Homo sapiens: one gene and its partner. The protein of the gene in region 2 binds, or shares a complex with, the protein of the main gene of each other region. Each region holds a gene or a part of one and is shown on either strand. Other genes may lie near its edges. A codon is read from its position in the direction of its gene.

What was found.
Region 1: the proteins of LILRB2 (region 2) and MR1 are in contact, whole or in part, in a crystal structure (PDB 9C9D), measured with the Homo sapiens proteins. Residues at the interface, in NP_001074447.2 of Homo sapiens: Tyr61 (codon at 2,046), Arg62 (codon at 2,043), Glu63 (codon at 2,040), Lys64 (codon at 2,037), Gly97 (codon at 1,938), Gln99 (codon at 1,932), Leu109 (codon at 1,902); in NP_001372090.1 of Homo sapiens: Thr213, Phe214, Pro215, Glu267.

Annotation. Positions count from the first base shown.
Region 1 is NC_000001.11:181,029,423-181,037,159, reverse strand, and holds the start of MR1 (major histocompatibility complex class I-related protein 1 isoform 1 precursor), read right to left. Parts: upstream 3,178-7,737; 5' UTR 3,153-3,177; coding exon 3,086-3,152; intron 164-3,085; exon of another isoform or gene 48-163; intron 1-47. UniProt on the Homo sapiens protein: Antigen-presenting molecule specialized in displaying microbial pyrimidine-based metabolites to alpha-beta T cell receptors (TCR) on innate-type mucosal-associated invariant T (MAIT) cells.
Region 2 is NC_000019.10:54,277,920-54,286,255, forward strand, and holds the start of LILRB2 (leukocyte immunoglobulin-like receptor subfamily B member 2 isoform 2 precursor), read right to left. Parts: upstream 3,192-8,336; 5' UTR 3,042-3,191; intron 2,965-3,041; exon of another isoform or gene 2,885-2,964; intron 2,710-2,884; exon of another isoform or gene 2,626-2,709; 5' UTR 2,578-2,625; coding exon 2,544-2,577; intron 2,381-2,543; coding exon 2,345-2,380; intron 2,157-2,344; coding exon 1,872-2,156; intron 1,729-1,871; coding exon 1,426-1,728; intron 1,190-1,425; coding exon 893-1,189; intron 644-892; coding exon 341-643; intron 21-340; coding exon 1-20. UniProt on the Homo sapiens protein: Receptor for class I MHC antigens. Recognizes a broad spectrum of HLA-A, HLA-B, HLA-C, HLA-G and HLA-F alleles. Involved in the down-regulation of the immune response and the development of tolerance.

The DNA of each region.
Region 1 (7,737 bases), on a different chromosome or scaffold from region 2:
GCAGATTTATACAGCCATAAAATTATGAGTAATATCAAGAGACTGACCTTGGTTATGTCGAGATGAAACATACAAATCACATATGGCAATGCATGAGAAATCTCATGCCAGCCCCCAGTCTGATTACACCCACCCATATCGCCAATTCACAGTTTCACACAGGCTGAAATGAAGAACAAGATGAGTTGTAAAAGCATGAAACACCTTTTTAATACAAATCCTGCAACTACAGTAAGCCACAGTTTTGAATTTGCAGTCGTTATTACTGCCCGAGCTCTCTATGGCTCCCAGTCAAATAACTGTGATTTCTTAGGGACATTACCTCCGAACATAAATTCACTCAGCAAACATTTACTAAGTGCCTGTTGGGCACTAGGTATACCAGAGAAATAAGAAAAAAATGAAGATATCTCTTTCTGTCTTTAAGGAGAGCCTCAAAGAGAAGATTTTTGTAAATGGAAAATTACAGAACTGTGAACAGGAGCCATGGGAGCACAAAGGAAGGAGGAGTCAACTGCAGGCTGTGGAGTTGATGAAAGCAACACACTGAAAGTGATATTGGAGTTATGTTGACATTTCCTGGAGTAATGACCCACAACCCTGCAGTATCTCTTCCCCGTGTTTCCCCATCTATTACTGGTATATAGCTCCCACTCAGGGCTAGCACTAGGCATAAATATCAAGTAGACTGAGTCTTCTTTCATAATCTCATATCCTTTTCCAGCCAATATCCCTCAAAGCCCAGGAATGTTCAGTTAGGGTCCTAGCAGGAAACAGCCTTCAAGCCAGATGGGTCATGTGAGGAGACCTTAATGAAGGGACTCCTTGCAGAGATATGGTCAAGGTTAACGGAACAAACAAGGATGATGGGCATCTGCAGGCTAACAACTATGGGAAGCCATTATCACCCCTAGGGCTTAAGAGATAAGAATAGCAAATACCGTTACTGAAGCCCAATGGGAGCTAGAACCATGAAGAAGGGGTTATTCAGGGAAGACAGCATTACAGAAGAACATAGCTACTGCCAAAGACATCACAGAAAGTGGGGAAGGAGCAAGAAAGATGTATCCCAGCCTCTCTTTCCTCCCTGCTCTCTGACATCTCTCCTTTCAGTGTCTCCCATTGTATGAACCCAAGCAGAAATCAGCTTGCAAGAGAGTCTAGGTGATGCAGTCTAGCAGTCAGCCTCAAGGACACAGAACAGAACAGAGAAGGATGCACTCTAAGGAGTCAGAAGGAGAACAGCCAGCACCAAGTGACCTTCCCTTGCCTTTATAACTTACTTGTTTTATTTCCTGTCCCCCCAATTATCAAAGTGACAAGTCTTCACACCCAAAGGAGCAATGACATTGTGGAACAGCCCTGGACCGAGGGCCAGAAGATCTGCAGTCTCCTTCAGGTTGCTCCTTATGTGAGCGTGGTCACTCTCTAGGCCTAGAGAAAAATCTAGGCCTCATCTTTAAATGGGGATATTTTCTTCACCTACTACAAATAGTCAGTGAGATTGTCATAGGAGATAATATGTTTAAGGAATATTATTCCATATTATTGGAGAGTTCTTTGAGAATCACATGCAGGTAATATATAAGCTTTATTATTTCCAAAAATATCACCCTTTGCCTCTCTCCTCCTTTCCTCTTTCATCTTCTGCCTCTTACCCTCACCCCCAATCTTTCCCATAAATGATGACACTTTCTGGATTAAATTTTCATGGAAGCAGAGACTATGTTTGTCTTGTTCGCTGCCATATCCCCCAAAGTGCCTGGCACATAGTAGGCCATCAATCAATATTTGAACAATTAATATATGGATTTTTTTTTTTTGAGATGGAGTCTCACTCTGTCACCCAGGCTAGAGTGCAGTGGCATGATCTCGGCTCACTGCAACCTCCGCCTCCTGGGTTCAAGTGATTCTCCTGCCTCAGTCTCCCGAGTAGCTGGGATCACAGGTGCGCACTGTGCACAGCTAATTTTTTGTATTTTTAGTAGAGATGGGTGTGCCGAGCTAATTTTTTGTATTTTTAGTGAGATGGGGTTTCACTATGATGGCCAAGCTGGTTTCAAACTCCTGACCTCAAGCGATCCGTCTGCCTCGGCCTCTCAACGTGCTAGGATTACAGGTGTGAGCCACCACTCCCAGCCATATGATTTAAAATTTTTTTATTTGTATAAATTTATGATGTACACATGCAATTTTGTTATAGCATAGATTGTGTAGTGGTCAAGTTGGGGCTTTAAGGTATCCATCACCCAAGTAACACACATTGTACCCATTAAGTAATTTCTAATCATCCACCCCCCTCGCCCTTCCAAATCTCCATGGTCAGTCATTCCACTCTCTATGTGCATGGGTGATTTGAAAGAACTCCTTCCTCTCATGTTCATCAGTCACACCTATGGTGGTGGCCAAGTCTAAGTTCTGGACACTGCCCACCAGTACCAGTCCTCAGCCCAGGGAGCAAGTGATTAGGGCAGAGAAGCCTGGTGGTTCTAGCCCATGGGCCCTTTCCCCTATTTGAGGCAACAGAAGGCATTTGCTTCCCCAGTGACTTGAGCTCCCCGAATAATGAAAAACTCTCCCTTCTACTTGATTAATACTTCTCACAGTCAGTAAACAAACCCAGAGCCATGGTTTTATCTTTCTTGGATCTTTTATTACAGGTAGGGCTTGTGTTGAGGAAAAACATAAATAAACCTGAACAATGGATCTACTCCACTGTTAATGCCCCTGAAACTCTGACTACATCCTCATGAGACTCTGGAAGTTAGAAAAGAGGAGAAACAAAAGTAAAAGAAAAAATATGAGCAGAAAAGAAAGGAGGCCATGCTCAGAGGGAAAGTGAGGAAGTTCCAGAGTCTTTCTAGAACGGCTCCCCCTCCCTCAGAAGGTGGTGACATCAAAATCCTACAAATATGAACTGGGAAACTGTTCAGGCAATCCATTGCTCCTGGAGTCTGAGTGTAATACATACACGTTTCTGCCCCTGGCTTCTATATTTTTCACCACAAGTTTTAGGAAGAAAAGCTGTGCCTTCTAGGCTGCCTCGACTTTGGAGTTAGGAGAGAAGAGGACGTGGGATACTCACGGGAATCGCTGTGCTTCACCATTAACACAATGATGAGAGGTAACAGGAACGCCATCAGTTCCCCCATAGTCCTTCTCTTTCCGGGTTCTTTTAACCAAAAACTGACAGGTCCCTTCTGAGAACCTCTTGGTGACACACAAGGCCTTCTCCCAATAAGAACAGGGGAAGATATGCAGTGTCATCAGTTGCTAGGTTAAAAAAAAAAGATAAAATGAAAGCATGAACACCTTCTTCGGTAACTTTTAAGTCTTTGCTGGTTTCAGACACTGCTTGCTCCTTTTGGTGTATCTATCTTCACCCTATTCCCAATTTTTAAATATTTATGGAGCATAGTCATGTTCAAAGCACAGAGAAACAAAGATTAATCATATCTGGTCAATCAGGGAGCTCAAGCTGCTGCCTCTGCTTCCCTGGAGCTTAGAATTTTGCTTAAGGGTCAGTAAGAAAGAGTCACAGTTCCCACGGCTTGGAACTCCCTGCTCTGGCTCCCTATGATGCTGAAGTCTCTGTCTGAGATAGCAGGTGTCACTTAGATTGTCCCGTAATCTTCAACTTAGGTCTGTCCTCCCTGCTACTCTAGCACCCAGCACAATAAGCTCAAAACACTTACTGAATAAAAGAAGGCAAGAGAAAGGCCTACAGAAGATTCTGAGGGGCAGCCACTCAGCTTGCTCAATCAGCAATCCCCAAGATCAAGCTGTGGCTACACTGTCATAAGGAGCACATGACAAGCTGGAAAACAGCAGCTTAAGCTTGTCCAGGGAGCTAGGGAACAGGCCCAGACAGGAAAGAGGAAGTAGACATGAAGGGGAGAGGTGAATGGAGGCATGGCCATGAGGCAGGCAGGCTTGAGCTGGGTTCAGGGACCTGGGTTTGCCTCCCCACTATTTGACCATGGGCAGAATCCCAAATTGCACCAAGGCCTGATTTCTTCAACTTTAAAAGCAAATCCTGTCATATATTTCACAGAGTTGTTGAAGGATCAGAAGTTCTGTTTATGATGCATTTAGTAGGTAGTAGAACCTTATGTACCGGTTGTATGGTAGGTTGAGAATTGTCGCCCCAAAGATGTCCACAACCTAATTGCCAGAACCTGTGGATATATTACCTTAAATGGCAAAAACAAAATAAAACAAAACAAAACCCTTGGCAGATATGATTAAATTAAGGATCTTGAGACAGAGAGCTATCCTGGATTATCTGGTGGACCCAGTGTAATCAGAGGGGCCTTATTAGAGGGAGGCAAAAGGGTCAGAGTCAAGGAGATGTGACAATGGAAGCAAAGGTCAGAGTGATGATGCCATTGCTGAAAGAAGGACATGAGCCAAGGAACGCAGATGGCCTCTAGAACTAGAAAAGAGAAGGAACAGATTCTCCTTAGAGCCTCCAGAAGGAACACAACACTTTGATTTCAGCTGATAGGACACATTTTTGGACTTCTGTCCTCCAGAACTTTGAAAGAATAAATTTGCATTGTTCGAGGCCACTAAGTTGGTGGTAATTTGTTATAGCAGCAACAGGAAACTAATAGGTCTACCTTTACCCAGAATAAAATAAGAAGCCAAATAATGAAATTAACATTTGGCAATCTCTCAGCGGCCCCTGGCACCTTCTCTTCTCAGATCTTTGTATTTCTCTCTTCCTTTCCTTTCTGTTTCTTTACATTGTTTTTCCTTTTGTTACTCATTTAACAAATACAGTCACCTGGATTTCTCTTTTGGAAAACTCCCCCAATATTCCCAAATGTCTCTCAGCACTGGAATTCCATGGCCATGTATTTTTTCCTTTGAATTTTTGTTAATATCTTGTTCCAAAATGCATTCCATACCATAACCTGCTGTACTGACATTAAAAAGTAGGTATGAGGCCGGGCGCGGTGGCTCACGCCTGTAATCCCAGCACTTTGGGAGGCCGAGGCGGGCAGATCACGAGGTCAGGAGATCGAGACCATCCTGGAACATGGTGAAACCCTGTCTCTACTAAAAATACAAAAAATTAGCCAGGCGTGGTGGTGAGTGCCTGTAGTCCCAGCTACTCGGGAGGCTGAGGCAGGAGAATGGTGTGAACCCAGGAGGTAGAGGTTGCAGTGAGCTGAGATTGTGCCACTGCACTCCAGCCTGGGTGACAGAGCAAGGCTCCATCTCAAAAAAAAAAAAAAATGTAGGTATGTCAACGATGTCTTTCTTTTTTTTGAGACAGAGTCTCACTCTGTCGCCTAGGCTGAAGTGCAGTGGTGCCATCTCGGCTCACTGCAACCTCCGCCTCCCAGGTTCAAGCAATTCTCCTGACTCAGCCTCCTGAGTAGCTGGGATTACACACCCAGCTAATTTTTGTCTTTTTAGTAGAGATGGGGTTTTCCCATGTTGGCCAGGCTGGTCTTGAACTCCTGACCTCAGGATCCACCCACCTTGGCCTCCCAAAGTGCTGGGATTACAGGCGTGAGCCACCACACCTGACCGATGTCTTTCATTTTTTAAGTCATTGTATTCTAATTGCAAATTAGTAAATTTAATCCAGAGTACAGGGCAAATACATATAAAAAACCCAGAGAGTGATAAGATAAAAATCACCCATCAGAAAAAATTGCTGTTGGCCGGGCATGGTGGCTCACACCTGTAATCCCAACTTTGGGAGGCTGACGTGGGCAAATTGCTTGAGCCCAGGAGTTCAAGACCAGCCTGGGCAACATGGTGAAACCCCTATCTGTACTAAAAATACAAAAAATTAGCCAGGTGTGGTGCATGCGCCTGTAGTCTCAGCTACTTAGGTGGCTGAGGTGGGAGGATTGCTTGAGCCAGGGAGGTCAAGGCTGCAGTGAGCTGAGACGCCACTGTACTACAACCATGGCAACAGAAAGAAAGAAGGGAAGGAAGGAAGGAAGGAGAGAGAGAAGGAGGGAGGAAGAAAGGAAAAAATTTGCTGTTAACATATTTTAGTGTATTTCTTTTCAGTGGTTTTGCTGACTACATATGTCTGCATATAAGCATACCTTTATTTGTTCATTTTACCAAAAAAGGGTTTTACGTCCTAATAGTATTTTGTAAATTCTTTTCAAATTTATATTTTCCAATATTAATATGCAGTTTTTAATAGCATAGCTTTAATAGTCCTTAAAATTTTTAATAGATTCAATTATGCCAAGATCTTCAAGGACAGGTAAGACTGCCCCACTAAGCTGGGAGGCACTGAGGTAGGGAGAATCCCTCGCATTCTCTTTGTGGAAAAACAAGCCTCACCTCTGAGCAATAGTCTAAACTTAAATCTCAGGCCGCACTTTTCAGAGTGGGTTGTGCTTATCCTGTTCATTATAAATCCCTTTATGTGTTTGGCTTTTTAATACCTGATTTATTATATGTATTTTAAGGCCCCTCTGAGGAATCTGACTCATTTGCAGTTAGTGCAATTCATCCTTAAAAACCAAATGATGAATTATCAAGTTAGCAAAAGGGTCTTGTTTGTTAAATAATGTTGTTTTCAACATAATATATTTTATTATATTTAATCAGTAGTTTCCCCTTGGCTATTTCTTTTTTAATTCAGTAGAAGTGTGTGTGTGTGTGTGTGTGTGTGTGTGTGTGTCTGTGTCTGTGTCTGTGTCGAGTTTGATTTGAGCCCTTTTCTGTGGGTAGGTAAAATCCATTTGCCAATTTTTGGCCAAGGCTAGTCCTTGTACAAATGGGAGTAGAATACTGTAGCAAAGAACATGGGTTCAGGAGTCAAACTTATTTTCAAATGAGGCTCTGACATTTCCTACCTATGTGACCTTTGACCAAATTATTAACTTCTCTAAGTCTGGGATTTCTCATAGAAAATGGAGGTAATAACCAATTCTGCCTTACAGGATTATTGTGAGGATTCAATGAAATCAGCAGTGGTGGAACCAAGAAGTGACTTGTCACTTGTTGGGGCATTAGAGTACTTTTACTACACACGCATAATGGCCATCAGCTGTCTTAAGTAATCCCAAATAAACCTATAATTTAAGAAAAGAGGCCAGGCGCAGTGGCTCACGCCTGTAATCCCAGCACTTTGGGAGGCCAAGGTGGGCAGATCATGAGGTCAGGAGATCGAGACCAGCCTGGATAACATGGTGAAACCCCGTCTCTACTAAAAATACAAAAAATTAGCCGGGCGTGGTGGTGGTCGCCTGTAGTCCCAGCTACTCGGGAGGCTGAGGCAGGAGAATGGTGTGAACCTGGGAGGCAGAGCTTGCAGTGAGCAGAGATCGCACCACTGCACTCTAGCATGGGCGACAGAGTGAGACTCCATCTCAAAAAAAAAAAAAGAAAAGACAGGGGTCTCCCATGCCACATCAAGTCCCCTAGCCCTGCTGTCCAACCAAATTACATTCTAAAACCTGCCCCATATGGGGATTCTGGAGCTTCTGAAGATAATGCATGTGTGTCACTGTATTTGTTTTCACACTGCTGACAAATACATACCCAAGACTGGGCAATTTACAAAAGAAAGAGGTTTATTGGACTTACAGTTCCACATAGCTGGGGAGGCCTCACAATCATGGCTGAAGGCAAGGAAGAGTAAGCCACATCTTATGTGGATGGCAGCAGGCAGACAGGAGCTTGTGTAGGGAAACTCCACCTTATAATACTGCCAGATTTCATGAGACTTATTCGCTATCATGAGAACAGCAC
Region 2 (8,336 bases):
GCTGGAACCCATGGAGGGTCCTGGGTGAAAGAATGAGAGGAGGGTGAGGAGCTGGGGCTTTCCTGAAGTCTCCACCTCAAACCAAATTTCTCTACATGGGCCCTGTGGCCTCCCCAGGCCCCTCCCTCCACCCGCCTCTCCTGTCCATGATGCTGGCGATGCCGCTGAGTGTGCGCAGGCCTGGGAGGGCCTGTTGTCCTCCTTCCCTCTGAGGGTGAGTCTCCCACTGGCTGAGCCCCGCTCAGACCCCCGCTCACTCCATCCCAGCCCAGAGCTCTCCTGGGGGGCAGGGCCTGAGCTGAGCCTTTGAGCTCAGAGAGGACAGGGTCAAGGCCCCCACCTGAGACCACGAGCTCCAGGGGCTCACTGGGGTGAGACAGCAGGTAGGGGTCGGAGTTGAGTGAGCCGTAGCACCTGTAGGTCCCCGCGTGGGCTGAGGTCACAGGACTCATGGGGAATTCAGCCTGGTACTTAGGATATTCGTGTATTGATCTTAGACGGAGTGGGGCATCAGCTGCTCCCGCCTTGGTCAGAAGGAAAGTGTGGAACTGCCGCCATGACTGACACAGCAGGGTCACGTTCTCTCCTGAGGCCACTGTGGGGCCTGGCTGCACTGAGATGAAGGGTGTGCCACGGATCTGTCCTGGAGAGAAGAAGGATGGGTGAGGGGCTGCCCCACCTTGCTCTGAGCTGAGACCTCCCCAGGCCTCTCTAGGAGCCTCTGTCTCTGTTTTCTCTGAGTCTTCCCCTCCCCACCCATCCCCTGTCTCTCTCTCTGTCTCTCCCTCCCTTGGGACCACCCCCCGCCTCATCCTGGCCATCACTAATTGGATTCCCCCGGCAGGGCCTGTGCAGAGTCTGGGTCCCTGACTGAACCCGCTGGGCTCCTCACCTGTGATCAGGATGTCCAGGGGGTCGCTGGGGGCCGAGCACTCAGAGGAGAGGTTGTGTGCACCGTAGCATCTGTACTGGCCCCCGTAGGAGCGGCTCACAGGGCCCAGGGTGAAGTTGGCCTGGGAGAGCCCAGCCTGGGGCTGCCGGCCAGGGAGCTGGCGAAGGTCACGTTCCCCCTCCTTGTACAGAACAAATCTGTCATAGCCGACATCAGAGACACACTGGAGGGTCAGGCTTTCCCCAGGGGCCATGACAGGACCCGGCTGCACTGAGAGTGATGGCTTCTTAGAAACACCTGGGAAAAGGTGCTCATGGTTTCCAGGAGCCGACCCTCAGGCTTCCCCACAAACCCTCCCTCTCCCCCGGTGCCTCACCACTGCTGATCTTCCTGTGTCTCTGGCCCCAGGACCCCTGAGCCCTCTCGCCCCAACATCATCCCACCTGGAACTGCCCTGAGACACGGCTGCTCCCCACCTGCCTGGAGACTCAGGGAGACTCAGGGAACTCCAGACAATGCTGTGAATTTCTCACCTGGGACCAGGAGCTCCAGGAGATCACTGGGTGAAGACCACACATAGGGAGAGTTCAAGTCATAACCATAGCACCTGTGCGACCACCTGCGATTCGGGCTCACGGGGCCCACGGAGAAGATGGCGCGGGACGACCCACGGGCATGGGGCTGGGAGTTCAGGCATTGTGGGTGTTCATCTTCTCCTTCCTTACACAGAATGAAGCCGCCAAATGCCACCTGTGACTCACACTGGAGGGTCACCCTTCCTCCTGAGGTCACCACAGGGCTGGGCTGGGCTGAGAGGGTGGGTTTTGGGTAGGCTCCTAGGAGAGAAGGAGGCATCGTGTTAAATGGGGCTCCCACCTCCCACATCATCCCCAGGGCTGGGCTGTGAGAGGGAGACACCCCTGAGAGCCTCCTTCCTGAGGGCAGAGCCTGGGGCTGGGATCCCTGAGTGTCCTCTCACCTGTCATCACCAGCACCAGGGGGTCACTGAGCTCAGACCACCGAGCGCGGCTGTAATACTGACAGCCATATCGCCCTGTGTGTTCCCAGGTGATGGATGGGATGTGGAACTGGCCGTTCTTCACAAGCTCTGGTCGTATCCGTGTAATCCAAGATGCTGATTTTTTCTCCCTATATAGACGGTACTCCTGGGCTTCAAGGCTCCCCTGACAACTGAGGGTGACGGGACTCCCCTGGGTGATCACAGAGTCTGGCTCAGCCCACAGGGTGGGCTTGGGGATGGTCCCTGGAAGGAAATCAAAGGTCAGATTCGAAGTCATTTCCCACCCAACAGATCTCAGCTCTCAGCCCAGGACCCTCCAGATGCCCCCATCAGTCAGTCCAGAACTTCTAATCCCCATCCCCAGCTGCACGGAGGTGGCCCCTTGTCCCCAGTGAGGAGGAGGGACCTGGGAGAGCTGGGGACAGACTCACCTGTCTGCACGCGGGTCCTGGGGCCCAGACTCAGCCCTGGAAGAGAGTTCCCTGTGAGGGATTTGCCCCCTGAAGCCTGAGCAGGTCCTCCCCTCCCTGGGATCTTTGTGAGCCCCTGGGGTCTCCTTAGGGACCAGAGTTTGGCTGTGGGGTGAGGTCCCTCCTAGGTTAGAAGCTCCCCTCTCTCTTCAAATCTCACCGAGACAGATCAGGACTGTGACGATGGGGGTCATGGCGTCTCCTCCCACTGCCCTGCTCTGCGGATGGATGAGCCCTCGGTGCTGGCGGGACAGAGACACACAGAGAGAAATAGCCTCCCCTCCTTCCCACCCTGTGTGGACACTCAGAGGCTGGGTCCTTCTCATGGGGTGTTGTCATCTGCAGCCACACAAGAAGCGGAACTGCCCTCCCAGGAGCCTGACTCTCATTCTTTTAGAGCTGAGGTGGGGGCAGGCACTGGGCCCTCTGCAGACATTTCAGACTGTAATGGGGTCTTTCCTGACCCCCAGCCACTGTCTGTCTGGTTTCTCCTCGTCTCACCGAGAGCCGGGATGTAGCAGCAAATAGAACTGGTGCTTCTTGTGTCTGCCCTTCCTGATGAGGGTAGCAGTGGCTTCCCCTTCCTTCTCACAGCTTCCCACATGGTCACCCTCCCTCCTTCAGCCCATCCATCAGCACAGCGTTGTGGGGTCCTTACCATGGCAGTCGTCCCTCCAGCCCTGGAGATGCTTCAGGGAAGACCCAGGTCCATGCTGCAGGCAGACTCAGATCAGCAGAGAAGCATCTCGCCTCTGGCTGTGCTGTCCAGGTTGAGCTGTGTGTGGCAGTGAGCACAGAGGAGAAATGCAGGGAAGTAGGGGAAGAAAAGTTGACTTCTTTCTTGACACTGGATTGTGGGTTTTCTTTCAACCAAATAGTCCCCTCTTAACTTCCCCTTTTTAAATGTTTTTGCTCCAGCGTCCACTCCCTCCCCCCCGGGAAGAAACCTCTGAGTCTTTCCTGCCTCCTCGGTGCCCATTGCGTCCTTAGCCGTCCCTCTGCACCTCAATTCCTGGTCAACATTTTGGGAACAATGACTTATGTTTGAGCTTTGATTTGGGGAGTGGGGGAGGGAGTTGATATTTATTTGATGACTGGTTATCATCCGCTGCCTACGTGACCTTGGTTTGTAATGTCCCATCACTGAGCCTCAGTTTCTTCCTTTGCAGATTGTTGTCATGAATCCCACTCGTCACAGTGGTTGTGGGGTCAGTGGTGCCTGGGACATTGGGAGGGGCTCATTTGTGCTTGATTTCCAGACCAGGGTAAGACCTGAGGCTTTGGGACGTGAGAGGATCTTGCTGTTGGACTCCACATTCTGTAGGTGATTGATGAGTCCACTCAAGATGTCACATCTGACCGTAATGGAGAAACGTATGTGTAGCATTTCTGAAATACCCAGAGTATCAAGGTCATGAGCAGAAAAAGACATGTGGAAACCCCAAGTGTAGACGGACTCACAAGAAAGAACAGAGGCCAGAGGTGAGATGCCACAGGGTCCCGGGACCATCAAGGGCTCATTAGGGTGGAGGTTTCCACCACTGAGTGGAGCCGGGAGAGGAACCCCGGGATCTGCAATGACAGTGAGGGGCTCAGGGCTCCAGACCAAGGTGGGAGGCTGCGTCCTCTAGCTACACCTGAGGCTGGAGTGGACCCCAAGCAGCCCAGGGGAATTCCCTCAAGGGAGTGCACCAAACTGTCCAGACCTGCTGGAATTCCAAGGAAAGAAGCACTAAACACCAGGGTGTTCATAGAGCATTTATTAGGGGGACCTCTGCACAGTGGGGCATCCTTGTCTTCTTGCCCAGTGTCTCCTTGTGGATCTCAAGGATGTGCTTCCACATAGCAGCATGTTCTTCAGATGGACAAGGAGACACTGGGTATTCTATCCAAAGCTTTAACCTAAAATAAAAACAAAACCAAAAATAAACCCCTAGAAAATATGATCTCTCAGTACAGTTGTTTCTTGGGATACACAGGCAATTCGTTTCAGTACCCCCTACATGTACCAACACTTGCTCGTACTCCAGCCCTGACGTTGTCTCTGCTGGGTCTGCATATAGGAAAAGTCTGCCGTTCATATACGCAAGTCTTGTTTCTCACAAATGCTATAGTTTTGATCCCCGTTTGTTTGGAAAAAGTGTGCATATAAGAGACCCCTGGAATTCAAGGCTGCATTGCTCCAGGGTTGCCTGGATTTTGAGTTTATTTGGGAGTGAGAAGCAAGGATTACAATATGGAGTGCATGGCATGGCAAGCCACAGTGTGTCCAGAGAGGGAAGTGTGATGTTGTGATATATGCTGGTTTTCACCCGCAGTTCCTGGCTTGTAACTCCCATAGCCCTTGTTATAGTCTTTTGTTATAACATTGGCTGTGCTGGGCCTCAGGGGAGGCCTCTGACCTCCTCCTGCCCTTCCTTCACCTAACCCAAAGTAAGACTCGAATGTTCCCTGCCTTTCTGATAGTGGATCTTAAGACCCTCCCAGAAGACAGTCTCACCCTGTTCCTTGTGGGAGGAAATGCTGATGTCATGAAGCTTTCATAAAAGCCCCAGAGGACTGGGTTTCATGAGTTTCTGGGTGGCTGAGCATGCTAAGGCTCCTGGAGGGCGACGCCCAGGGAGGGTATGGAAGCCCCGGGCCTCTTCCCCCATGCCTCCTCCTATGAGTTTCTTCATCTGTGTCCTCTGCAGTGTGCTTTGTATTCAACCAGGAAATGTCAGTGTTTCCTGAGTTCTGTGAGCTGCTACAGCAAATTAATCAAACCCAAAGAGTGGGGCATGGGATCCCCAACTTGAAGCCAGTCAGTCAGAAGTTCTGGAGGTCTGGACTTGGGAATGGTGTTGGGGGCAGTTTTGGGGAATGGGCCTTCAATCTGTGGGATCCGGGACTGTCTCTGGGTAGACAGCACCAGAGCTGACTTAGAGGACACCCAGCTGCTGTTCGCTACTGCGTCTGGGGAAAAAAACCCCATACATCTGGTCCTAGAAGTCTTTTTCTGTGTTGATGATTCCTGTGACGTGAGAGTAGAGGAAAAGCACCGTAGAGAGAGCTCTCTGTACATAGAGAGGTAAAGGAAGTTCTTATCAGCAACAAGGGAGAGCCTGACAGAGCTGCCTGGAAACAGAGTTCCCTGGTTCCACAGGTTCAAAGCCAGAGTTGCTGTCAGTCCATTGGAGGAGATGCTGTTGCTGGTCAATGGTTCTCTTGAGAGCATCTTATCTGAATTCCTGACGTCCTAAAGAACATCTAGTGATAAACCTTGTCAAAGCAGAAGGGGCTGAAGGACATGGAAGAGTTTCTTATGGGTTTTTTAAAAGTCCTTAGAAACAGTTCTTATCTGAGACGTGGAAGCATGGGCCTCCTCTCCTTCAGGCCTTCCTGGCCCTGTGGGGTCTGAGTTTGACCAAAGTCATCTCATCCTTGCACCTGTAACTTTTCTATTGGGAGTCTGCAGTGAAGGGATGGGGTTACGAAGTTTAACCTGAGAGTTTCAGGAATTTGGTTCAGGGGAGGGCTTGTTTCTACACTTTTAGCAAAAGGGTTAATTTTTCAGTGTTTTCTAGAAACAACCTAAAGTGCTTTATCAGTACTTGGGGATGCTCAAGACCTCAGCTTGGGTTCCAGCCTGCAGGTGGAAACATGCATCTGTCCAACCCACAGAACAGTCATGGCCCTTTGTCTCACTCTCAGAACAAGGAAAAAAGTGGAGGAAACTGTGGGACCTTAGAGACTGTGACTCCCCCTCTTCTGTGTTTGTGGACAGACCCTGGGATGACTCAGTGACCCGGGCTACACTCAGCACTGAGCCACCTTCCCGGGTGTGCATGACACAGATGCGCTTTATCATTGTTGGACCGGGCATCTCTGACCCTGGAGTGTGAGGCTCACATGGACCCCGCCATGCCGGGCATAACACAGAGGTGATTCTAAGCTTGGGAGCATGGACACCGCAGGGCAGGAGCGGCTACAGCAATGCCCTCATCAGCTTTCCTTCCTGAGTCAGCCTGGGGAGAAACCCTATATGGAAGATCAGGTGTGTGGGAGAAAAACCCACCCCAGAGGAATAAAAATCAAAGAGTCCGTTAGAGAAAAAACAGGCAATTGTAGAAATGAATTAGGAAGCTATTGTGATGTGAAAATAGTAAATTATATTAACACATTTAGAAATAATTTCATCCAGAACAAGACACAGCTGAAATGATAAACATTGTATTGGTGTAGAATATTTACTAAAATTTTTCATTAGTCATCAGAGAAAAACTAGAAATGAAAAAAATAGAAAAGATAATTAATGCACACAAGAAATGGAATGAAAAGAGGAAACAGATATCTCTCTTTGGATCACACTTTCAGAATGAAGGAAATAAGGAGTATGTTATTCAGTAAATACTTGCAAAGAAAATGGTTGACATTTTTATAGAAATGAAGAAAGAACATGAGTTTAACGTGAACAAATTCATAAATAACATCAATGTCTTAACTATGATAGAGTAAAAGATACCTAGAATAGATACAAAGTAATTTTAAAACTACTGGAGAAAATGAAAATTATTGTCCAATGAAAGACAAGCACATTGGGACTGGATTTCCCAAGAGTAAAAAGTGCAAGAAAATGACTGGGGGCTGAGGTTCAAGTTGGCTGAATGGAAAGGGCTGGAGTCTGCCTACTCACTAAGAGGACCCAAAATAGCGAGTAAATACCAACAGGTCAAGTGGATCTTCCAAGAGGATGCTGGGGTTCACCTGAGAAACATGAGGACATGGAGAGAAGAGAAGAGAAAAGGTGGGAGCCAGGAGAGGCTCCTAACACGGGGAAGGGGTGAGTGAGTGAGAGATTCACCAACACGGGGAAGGGGTGAGTGAGTGAGAGATTCCCCAACACGGGGAAGGGGTGAGTGAGTGAGAGGATCCCTAACACGGGGAAGGTGTGAGTGAGTGAGAGGATCCCTAACACGGGGAAGGGGTGAATGAGTGAGAGCCTCCCTAACACAGGGAAGGGGTGAGTGAGTGAGGGGTCCCTGGCATCTACACCTCTGCTGTGGGCCCTTAGGATCCTGCCCACAGGAGAGCGCCTGTCCCCTCTGGGCCTCCAGAGGCCCACAGTTTGCTCCTGGAGACTGTACCAAGGCCCCACTGGAGCCCACGTGGAATCCCACAGGCTTCTGATCCCTGAGCAGCCTGGGTCCAGCTGCCACTGCCTTAGCAGGGAGGGAGGAGGCCAGGCACCTCTGTGGGCCCCAGAATAAGTATGACAGCTGGGGCACAGGAGCAGCCAAGCTGAGCACCACACAGCTGCCCACCTCTGTTGCTTCCTGCGAAATGGGGCTTCCTTCCTGCTAATGGGGCTTGCCAGCTGCAGGGCCCCAGTCACCCGTCCTGCCCCCACCCGAACACCGTGGCCCTGGCTCGGTGCCCTCTGAAAGCCCAATGCTCAGAGGCCCCTGACAAGCCCTTTGCAGTCACTGCCACCTCTGCCTCTGCCCCTGCTGCCCCAGGCCCAGGGAGGGTGTGGGGAGGCCTGGCACTTTCACGTGTCCCCAGAGCAAAACCGAGTGACACTTCTTCAGGAGGGAAGTGTGAGCGGGCCCTGTGCCTCACAGCTGCCAGTCTCCAGTGCCCCAGCCGAGGGGCGCTGCCCTCCCTAGTGACAGGCCCACAGCACAGCCACCCTGCCCCCACCTGGACATTTCAGCTGCAGCCCCCAGCCCTTCTGAGAGCCCAGTCCCCACAGGCCTGTGATCTGCCGCAGGCTCTACCACCTGAGCCTTCTGCCTGCCCCGCCTGAAGGTTCTGCCGGTGACCTGGGGACCAGCCCATCCCTCCCCATCACAGCCAGCATCTGAACCCCGGAGCAGCCGAAACCCAGTCCAGCCCCTTCAGGACTCACACACGCTGTCCAGCCGGCCACCTAGGGGCCTGTGATCCGGGAACTACCTGCCCTTTCCTACCT